2 separate regions of the Homo sapiens genome follow, and region 2 is linked to region 1. The links come from fine-mapping of genetic effects on gene expression. A gene starts in region 1. The other region holds a variant in brackets. All regions are shown on one strand. Distances are between the middles of the regions.

Evidence for each region. PIP is the estimated chance that this variant, and not a neighbour inherited with it, causes the effect.
Region 2: its variant is fine-mapped to the expression of CRISPLD2 in whole blood (INTERVAL, PIP above 0.99).

The regions. Positions count from the first base shown.
Region 1 is chr16:84,817,582-84,822,581 of GRCh38, forward strand. CRISPLD2 (cysteine rich secretory protein LCCL domain containing 2) reads left to right here and starts at 2,404. Exons shown (of 15, transcript NM_031476.4): 1 at 2,404-2,552. RefSeq lists a silencer at 2,177-2,366.
Region 2 is chr16:84,907,787-84,912,786 of GRCh38, forward strand. CRISPLD2 (cysteine rich secretory protein LCCL domain containing 2) reads left to right here. Exons shown (of 15, transcript NM_031476.4): 15 at 1-1,722. Among named protein-coding and RNA genes, the nearest start is that of LINC02176, 18 kb to the right of the region's middle. RefSeq lists a silencer at 2,369-2,484. The variant C/G (reference allele first, on the strand shown) is at 2,367.

The DNA.
Region 1 (5,000 bases):
CTATGTAGAGGCTGATTCCGTGTAGCTTTCCTTCCTCTTTGCTGGAGTGGGGATGGAGTAGGGACCCAGTTCATTCCATTCCCCTGCACCCAAGGTTTCATGGTCACAGGCAATGGCAGCCACGTGGGTGAGAGTGTGAATTCAAATCCTGGCTCTTCTATTCAGAGGCTGTGTGGCCTCAGGGAAGTGACTTACACTCTCTGTGCTCAGTTCCATCATTGAAAAAATGAGGCTAATAACAGGACCAGCCTGGAGGGTTGTTGGGGGTGGCAGGATTTGGCAGTATAATGCTTTGGGGTCAGGTACTCAGAGGCATCTGTTTTGTTGTTGTTTGTTTGTTTGGTTGGTTGGTTTTGTTTTGAAATAGGGTCTTGCTCTGTCACCCAGGCTGGGATGCAGTGGCTCGATTTCAGCTCACTGCAACCTCCACCTCCCAGGCTCAGGCAATCCTCCCACCTCAGCCTCCTGAGTGGCTGGAACCACAGGCATATGCCACCATGCTGGCTACTTTTTGTAGCAACTGGATTTCATCATGTTGCAGGCTGGTCCTGAACTCAAGCCACCTGCCTGGGCCTCCCAAAGTGCTGGGATTACAGGCCTGAGCCATCGTGCCAGGCCTCCAAAGGCATCTGCTAACACAGATCTCTTCTCCCCTTGGATTTGTCTTTTGTCAATCCAAGGACTGTTGTTCTGGAACAGTCTTATTCACTACTGAGCCCTCCAGTGCTTGAAACAGAGCCCAGCACATAGTAGGTGCTTAATTATTGGATGACTGCATGCCAGTTGAGTGCCTCTGAAGAATGATGCTTCAAAGACTGAGAAAAGTAAAACAAAAAGAGGAAAAAAAGATAACAGAAAACATCTGCATTATTATTATCTTTTTGAGATGGAGTTTTGTTCTTGTCTCCTAGGCTAGAGTGCAATGGCGCCATCTCAGCTCACTGCAACCTCTGCCTCTCAGGTTCGAGCGATTCTCCTGCCTCAGCCTCCCAAGTAGCTGGGACTACAGGCATGCACCACCATGCCCGGCTAATTTTTGTATTTTTAGTAGAGACAGTGTCACCATGTTGGCCGGGATGGTTTCGAACTCCTGATCTCAGGTGATCCGCCCGCCTCAAACTCCCACAGTGCTGGGATTACAGGTGTGAGCCACCGCGCCCGGCCAGTCTGCATTATTCTGTATCTGCATTTGAGCCGCACCAAAATCTTAGGCAAGCCTTCCCTGTTTGAGTCCACGTCACGCAGGCAGCCTTCCATAGTCCTTGTTCCACCCATTCCCCATCCTTGTTTCTCCCACGTGCCCTAGCTCGTGGGGGCCCCAGACTCTGAGATCCCGGAGGTGTCTTGTTTGTGCCTGCTGTATAGCACAGGGCCCGGCACAGAGCGACTCGATGGGTATTTGGGGAATGAGTTAATGCTGGAGGAGCTAATTCCGGTGTCTTGGTGCGGAGATGAGCAGTGCGGACAGGCCCCCTCCTGCCCTTGGGCCCCAGCACCTTACCGCGCAGTGCCTGCATACCCGTCCACATTTTGTGACTGAGGCGGGAGCACGGGGCAGTCCCTTAGCTCTTAAGGAACGTGGATTTACCTGTTTCAAAGGTGATTTCGTCTGGCTCTAAATTGATTTCCGTATGTACCTGCACAGGTTAAAAATGCTAAATGCCTCCGGGCAAAAGAGATATGAACATGCTGCACTGCTCCTAGCTACGGGACTTGGGGCACGCTCTTCTCCAAGCCTCAGCTACTGGATCTGTGAAATGAGGTGATTTCCACCTCCCTGGATTCCTGGGAACGCGTCCTAGGGTCGTTGAAGGTAAAGTGCGGAGCCTGGATCCCCGCGCTAGCGGCCCCATCCGGAAACAAGTCTCCCTTTCTTCGTCTGCAAATTGGGAAGAGGGGGCCTAAGTTTTCTGAGCACGTGTAGAGGGTGGGAGTCACCTCAGTAACTGTGTACTCTGCACCGCGCCACAGTTCACAGCGCCCAGCCCTTGCGGATTTCATTTGCTAAAATCCTGGGAGGTCGCCTCCTTATTCCTATTTTCCAGTTGAGCTGCAGAGAGCTGGGGTTTGGTAAATTTGCAAGCCCCTTGTGGGAAGCGCTTGGCACCGCGCCAGGCGCATAGTAAGCGCTCAATGAAAACTATGCTTGTGTGGCCAGTGGCGAGGGAGCTGAGCGTCTCCTTGTCCCTAGCCGGCCCTGGAGGCCAGCGGCCCCGCCTTCCTCGCCCACCCGGCGCCCGCGCCTCAGCTGCCCCCCGCCTCCTTCAGCCCGCTGAGCCTGCGGGGCGGGGCCGGGGGCGGGGCCGGTGATGCTCGGTCCTACCAGCGCCGCCAGCGATCTGGGGGCGTGGCCTCCGGGCTCCGGGGAGCCTACAAGAGGCGGTACGCTGAGCCCCGGCACCCACTCGCATCCCAGGGCGTCTCCGGCTGCTCCTATTGAGCTGTCTGCTCGCTGTGCCCGCTGTGCCTGCTGTGCCCGCGCTGTCGCCGCTGCTACCGCGTCTGCTGGACGCGGGAGACGCCAGCGAGCTGGTGATTGGAGCCCTGCGGAGGTAAGTGTGATTTCCATGCTTCTCCCTTTTGCAAACTGTTACCCCCCCGAGAAGCTGGAATAACTAGGACAGATGCCACCTCGCAGGGCTGACTGTGTGCTGGCACCACACCGAGTGCTCTGCTTGCATAGCGGAACACAGCTTTGCGACATGCCCTTTTGCAGATGGAGAAACTGAGGCTCAGCGAGGACAACTCATTTGTCCAGGACCTCGCAGCCAGGACTCCAAGGACCCAGGATTCAACGCCGATCTGAGCGCAGAATCCTGCTCCTTAGAGGCTGTTTACTCTCTTGCCTTCCTCGTGCAGTTCACTAGCATTTGTTGCATTCCTGTGTTCGTAGTGGGTGTCAATAACTGGAAAGCTGATGGCATGGATATGGCAGGCATTAGAATGTGTCCTACTCATGTCTGGAGGACCAGGGTGATCTAGTGGCATGTGCATTCAGCTGCAGTTTAGAGGGCCACGCCCCTCTGTGATTTCATTTGCAAGGTAGCCTTCTTCCCACATTTCAGATGAAGATGCTGAGGGTCAGAGAGGTGAAGTAAGTTGTCCGGGCAGAGCCAGGGCTGGAACCCAGCTCTGTCTGTCTCCAGAGCTTCAAATGGATGTGTAGAGACTTGGGGCCATGTCAGGGTTCTGCAGTCTGGGGGAACACGTTTCTGGGTTTCTTTAGCCAGAGCGGGCACCTGCATAACTCCTGCGTGGGGAGAGTTACCCTGGAAGCGGAGGGCTCACTCTGGAGTGTGGGGGAGATCGGTCGTCCCACGTGGACAGAGCCAGGGCTAGTCCCTCATGTGCTGCAGACCCAGAGCCTCCCTTGCTAAGGCTGGGCTGGTGGACAAGCCAGGGAGGACTTCGCTGATGCCTGCTCATCGCAGTCCAACTTGAATTGGGCGTCTCTCAGCCAAAATGTGAGTTGCTGCCCTGGCTGAGAGAAGCATCCCGTGCAAATGCCTAGCTTGCCTTGCAACCGAGAGTGGGGTTGTGAGTTTCCCCTTTGGGCCTTTGGACCTCTTGCCCTGGTAGAATGGGGTGAGCCTGCTTTCCCCATCCAGGGTCTGATGTCTGACAGTGAGGAGAGCCTGCAGAACAGGACCGGGGCGTGGTCCTTTCCAGTAGACTGAGGCCATGAGTTGTGACTGTCGGCTGTCCCAGGGCTCCTTGGGTTGTATGCACCTGATTTTCTGCTTCTGCCCCTGATCTGGCTGTTCCCACTCAGGAGAAGGGGTGGGTGTGTGACTGTGTTGCCTGTGCGGCAGGCACGCGGTCTGTGCCACGCAGTTTACCTGTATTGTCATCGCTGCAACACCCCGGGGAGTAGGCCTCTTGATGCCCACTTCACAGCTGAGGAAACTGAGGCTCAGCAAGGTGAAGTGCTTGCCTAAGATCCCCCAGCTGGTATGGAATGCTGTCACCCCCAGGTGGGTCCTATCTGCACTCTTGACCCTGCTTTCTTTAAGACACTTCCCTGCCCACTGCCAACTCCACCCATGAACCTGACCTTCACACAGGTGATGTTTTGTCTTACAGGGGCTCCAGTTAAAACCACTGGACAATGTACCCAGGGAGGAGAAACCAAGAGGGTGATTTTGATTTTTTCAGAGTTTCTTAAGATGTGAGAGTAGGAATAGTAATAATGCCATTTGTAATAATACAAGCAGCTGACATTTACATGATGCTTAGTACAGACCAGACATGCCCAGGGTTTCCACGGATGAGCTCACTGCCTGCTCTATTAGCTGGGCACTTTTTACAAGGAGTTAGTTGAGGCTCAGAATTATTAAGGTGTGTGCCCAACATGACACAGCCAGGGCGGGGTAGAGCTGCCGTCCAGGCTGGGCCCTGCCCCAGATTCTGGGGGAAGGTGCCCATCTAATGACCAGCCACATGACTGTCCCAGCAGAGCTTGCTGCTAGTTGAGGCTTTCTGTGCCATGTGGGAGTTTTTTTAACGTTGGCAGGGATCTGGGTCCCTGGTCCCTGTTGGGGTGAGGCTGGGAGGGGATCAACTGACCCTGGGCTTGGGCTCAACATTGCTGACAGGTACTGAGAGCCCCGTCCCAGGACCCAAATCAGTGCTGGTTCTGAGTCCTGCCTCTGTCCTGGAGAGGAGAGTTGGTTTGACTGGGAAGGCCTGAGCTAGGGAAGAAGACTGCGAGGTCTCTTAAAACCTCTGCACTTCATCCCTCAAAAGACCACAAATTAAGTATGTGGCCCTTTGTAAGTTGCATTTGAAAGTTTTTGGAGGCAGGACCCTCTGACGTCTTTGGAGGTCAGAAAGTTTTTGGAGGCAGGGCACTGACCTCTTTGGCCTGTGGGAACTGGAACTTTTCTTTCCTCTGTCACCAGCGTCATTTGCTGTGTGTGGGAGGTGTCTGCATGTCTGCCTGCGCCAGACTCAGGAGGCTTTTTCTTTCTTTTTCTTTTTTCTTCTTTTGCAAACGCACT
Region 2 (5,000 bases), 90 kb after region 1:
AATACACTAGAAGGATCTCTTTTCCTGTTTTCGTGAAACGACTCTTGCCAAACGTTCCCGAGGCGCCAAGGAGTGTAGTACACCCTGGCTGCCATCACTCTATAAAAGTGCTTCATGAGCCCAGACCAAAAGCCCACAGTGAAATGAAGTACCCTTTTGTAAATAGCATTTTTTTGCAGAAGGTGAAAATTCCACTCTCTACCACCGGGCCAGCCAATAGATCACTTTGGTGAATGCTAGTTTCAAATTTGATTCAAAATATTTCTTAGGTGAAAGAACTAGCAGAAAGTCAAAAACTAAGATACTGTAGACTGGACAAGAAATTCTACCTGGGCACCTAGGTGATGCCTTCTTTCTTTGATTGCCTTTCTAATAAATGCAGAATCTGAAGGTAAATAGGTTTAAAACAAAACAAAAACCCACCCCTTTAAGGAGTTGGTAAAAAGCAGTTCAACTCTTAGCTTGACTGAGCTAAAATTCACAGGACTACGTGCTTTGTGCATTGTAGTCTAGTCGTAATTCATAGGTACTGACTCCTCAGCCCCAAATGTCGGAGAGGAAGAATTCGGTCAGCCTGTCAGGTCGTGAGTCCAGTTACCACCAAACATCTGGGAAACTTCTGGGTGCTGGGTGCTCTGCTGCTGGACTTTTGTGGCTGTGTCTGTGTCTGCAAGATAAATTAGATCGCCCTGTGGGGTTTGCAGAATTAGTGAAGGGTCCAGGACGATCCCAGTGGGCTCGCTTCCAAAGCATCCCACTCAAGGGAGACTTGAAACTTCCAGTGTGAGTTGACCCCATCATTTAAAAATAAAGTCCCCGGGTTCCTTAATGCCTCCTTCACTGGGCCTTCCTAGCAGGATAGAAAGTCCTTGCCCAGAGCAGGACCTGGCTGTCTTTTTTTTTTTTTTTTTTTTTTTCCCGAGACCAAGTTTCACTCTGTTGCCCAAGGTAGAGTGCAGTGGCGTGATCTCTGCTCATTGCAACTGCCGCCTCCCGGGTTCAAGCAATTCTCATGCATCAGCCTCCCAAGTACCTGGGACTACAGGCGTGAGCTACCATGCCCGGCTAATTTTTGTATTTTTAGTAGAGATGGGGTTTCATTATGTTGGCCAGGCTGGTCTCGAACTCCTTACCTCAGGTGATCCACCCACCTTGGCCTCCCGAAGTGCTGGGATTACAGGCATGAGCCACTGCGCCCGGCCATGGACCTGGCTGTCTTTATCATCCCCACAAACATTTTGAAACTGGAATATTTGTCTTCAGAAAATGGAAACAAGACTATAAATGATAAGCCCTGTCCCTAGCACCACCTCTCCTGTGTGTGGAATAGAGGCCCCTCGTGCTACCAACACTTACCCTGTGTTTAAAAAGATCTTGTACCAAGCCAACGGCGTTCCTGGCTCTCCTGCCCACAGGATGAACATTTTCGGCTTCCTTAGGAGTTTTGCCCTACCGTATTCCAAAGCGTGTGCTGGTTTCTCATATTGTCTGTAGGCTCACTCAGCCCGCAGTTTATGTGTGTGCTTTTTTCTATGAAAAATGATGTATTTTGCTACTTCCTGTGTACAAAGTTTTATTGTAAATGTTTTTTGTGCTTTGCATGAACAGGGGCCACGTTGTTGCAATTGTTTCAGTAGAACTGGTTTGATTTCTAAAATGTTCCTGTAACATATCTTTTATGAACAAATCTGAACAATTTGTGAAATAAAACATTGAAAACCATCTTTCAGGCTCTGGACTGTTTTGTGTTGGCTGCTTCTGCTAGGATGTCTCATATACACAGAGATGCTGACAGCCAGGGCCTGGTGGAGACCTCCACCCCATCCGCGGGAAGGAGGGAGGAGCTTGCCAAAATGCAATTTCGGGCTCAGCAAGGCTGGGTTGGGGCCAGGGACTGTGAATTTCTCCCAAGATCCTGGTGATGCGAATGCTGCCAGTCCCCAGATCACACTCTGAGTGGTGGTGGGCTCAAGGCCATTCTGTCTAAGCTCCGGCTGCCCTAACAAAATACCATAGACTGGGTGACTTAACCCACAGAGATATCTTCCTCACAGTTCTGGAGGCTGGAAGTCTAAGATCAGGGTGCCAGCAGCGTTGGTTTCCTCTGCGGCCTCTCTTTGGTTTGCAGGTGGCTGCCCCTGGCCGTGTCCTCACATGGCCTTTCCTCTGGGCATGTACACTCCTGGTGTCTCTCTCTCTCTCTTATAAGGACACCGGTCATATTGGGTCTGGGCCCCACCCTTAGGACCCATTTAACCTGAATTACCTCCTTAAAGGCCCTACCTTGAAATACACAGGCTGGCTCATGCCTGTAATCCCAGCACTTTGGGAAGCTGAGGCAGGAGGATCACTTGAGTCCAAGAGTT[C/G]AAGAGCAGTCTGGGCAACATGGGGAAACCTTATCTCTACAAAAAAAATACAAAAATTTGCCGGGCATGGTGGCGCATGCATGTAGTCCCAGCTACTTGGGAGGCTGAGGCAGGAGAATTGCTTGACCCTGGGAGGCAGAGGTTGCAGAGAGCCAAGATGACACCACTGCACTCCAGCCTGAGTGACAGAGCGAGACACACACACACACACACACACACACACACACGAAAGAAATACATTGGGGGTTAGGGATCGTTTTGTGTGGTTACAATAAGGAAATGATCAAAGTACGATTTCACAAATCACACAGTTTATTGCTACACAAAGATGTTTTTTCCTTAGGTTCCCAGTGCTTAAACAGGGAGAGAATGAGACCAAACCTCACAGAGAATACACTCGACAGACGAAGCCCATTAACCCCACAGTGGGTCAGTTCCAGAATGATCAAGGCCTACTTGCTCACTTAGGATGGAAGCAGGCCTCAGTTTGAGGTGCACCTTCTACCAGCCGTTCTTGGAAGCGCTGTAAGGTCCCTAGAAGGCAGTTCCAGCGCTGGCCAGAGGCTTCTGAGAGTAGCTCCAAGGCTGGCGGGGTGACCTGTCACAGCTGGAGCTCCCAGCTTTGGGAGAAGATGCCGAGGGTGCAGCCGGCCACAGCCAGAGCTCCCAAAGGGTCCGTCCCACTGGCAGGTTTGCATGTGTATGGAAGTCCAGTCGTGAGGGTCAGGAGCTCGCAGACGGGGTCCGATAAGGGGTGAGGCCACATTCTCCAGGGAAGAAGGGGCACACCAAGTTCTTAGCGCAGCAAAACGCGTCACCCACGTAGCAACCTGTGGAGGTGTCTGGAATCATTTCAAAGCCCTGTGGGCCGGGCACAGTGGCTCGTGTCTGTAATCTCAGCACTTTGGGAGGCCGAGGTGGGTGAATTGCTTGAGGTCAGGCGTTCGAGACCAGCCTGGCCAATATGGTGAAACCCCATCTCTACTACAAATACAAAAATTAGCCAGGCGTGGTGGTGCACGCCTGTAATCCCAGCTACTTGGGAAGCTGAGGCAGGAGAATGGCTTGAACCCAGGAGGAGGAGGTTGTGGTGAGCCGAGATCGCGCCACTGCACTCCAGCCTGGGCAATACAGTGAGACTTTATCTCAAAAACAAAACAAACAAAGAAAACCCTATGTGTTCAGGGTGGGAAATTTAGTTCGTAACGGTCACCTTCTTCCCAGGCATCAGCCCAAAGCAGCCCCTTTTCACCAAGCGCAGTCACATCTCGCTGAGTGCCTCAATGCACCAAAGCCCCAGAGCAATTTGGGGGCACGGGGCCGGCCTTTCCTCTCCCCGGTGAAGGCGCCTGCCTTCCTCTCAGGCTCATCTCTAGTGCGGTCCTTTTCCATGCGTGATGGGGATAGCTTTCCTCTTTAAGAAATACCAGGCTTTTAAAATGTCCATTTTAAAATGTTGAGTAAGTTAAGATTGTGCAGGTCAATTGCAAAAATCACCAAGATTGGATAATAAGGGCTGAAGTTTGCGAAACACTTCCGGCTCTGCCCACAGCATCCTCAGCGTATGGCATTTGTCCTGCGACATACAGATGGTTACTGCTCCTAATATCATTATTTTGACCAATGCATTTGGCATTCCCTGCACTGTTTTCTCCTCTAAAAGTGTCTCCCAGGCCTTCACTGCTTCAGCCACTGCTCTCCTGCCTTCTACCCCAGGGAAGGGAGGCCACAGCTGAATAGCAGGAACAAAGGGGTCAATGTCAGCTTTCGAGTTTCTAAACTGACTTCTTGTTTGTTTGTTTTGAGACAGTCTCACTCTGTCACTCAGGCTGGAGTGCAATGGTGCAATCTAGGCTCGCTGCAACCTCTGCCTCCCAGGCTCAAGCAATCCTCCCACCTCAGCCTCCTGAGTAGCTGGGACCACAGGTGCACGCCACCACGCCCAGCTCATTTTTGTACTTTTTGTAGAGACGGGGGTTCACCATGTTGCCCGGGCTAGTCTTGAACTTCTGGGCTCAAGCGATTCTCCCGTCTCAGCTCCTAAAAGTGCTGGGATTACAGGCACAAGCCACCACACCCCGCCCGTTTGTTTTTCAACTTTTTTATTTTGACACAATTTCAGACTGGCAGAAAAGTTGCAAGAACAGTACAAAGAATTCCCATATACATTTCATTCAGATTCCCAGACACTAGCATTGGATTGCATTGGTCATTTTCTTCCTCTATCTCATTTCTAAATTATTTAAGAGAGAATTGCAGGCATCACACTCCTTTTATCTCAATACTTTGAGTGTATATTTCCTAAGAATGAGGACATTCTCTTACATAGCCATGATATAATTCTCTAAATCAGGAAATTAACATTAGTGCAATATATCATCTAATCTATATACTTTGTCCAGATTTTACCAGTTGTCTCAGTAACGTCCTTTATGGCGAAAGAGAATCTCAGGTCATGAGGTATATTCAGTTTTCTTTTCTTTTCTTTTTTTTTTTTTGAGACAGGGTCCTAATCTGCTGTCATCCAGGCTAGAGTGCACTGGCACAATCAGGGCTCACTGCAGCCTCAATCTCCCGAGCTCAAGCAATCCTCCCACCTCAGCCTCTGGAGTAGCTGGGACCGCAGGTGTGTGC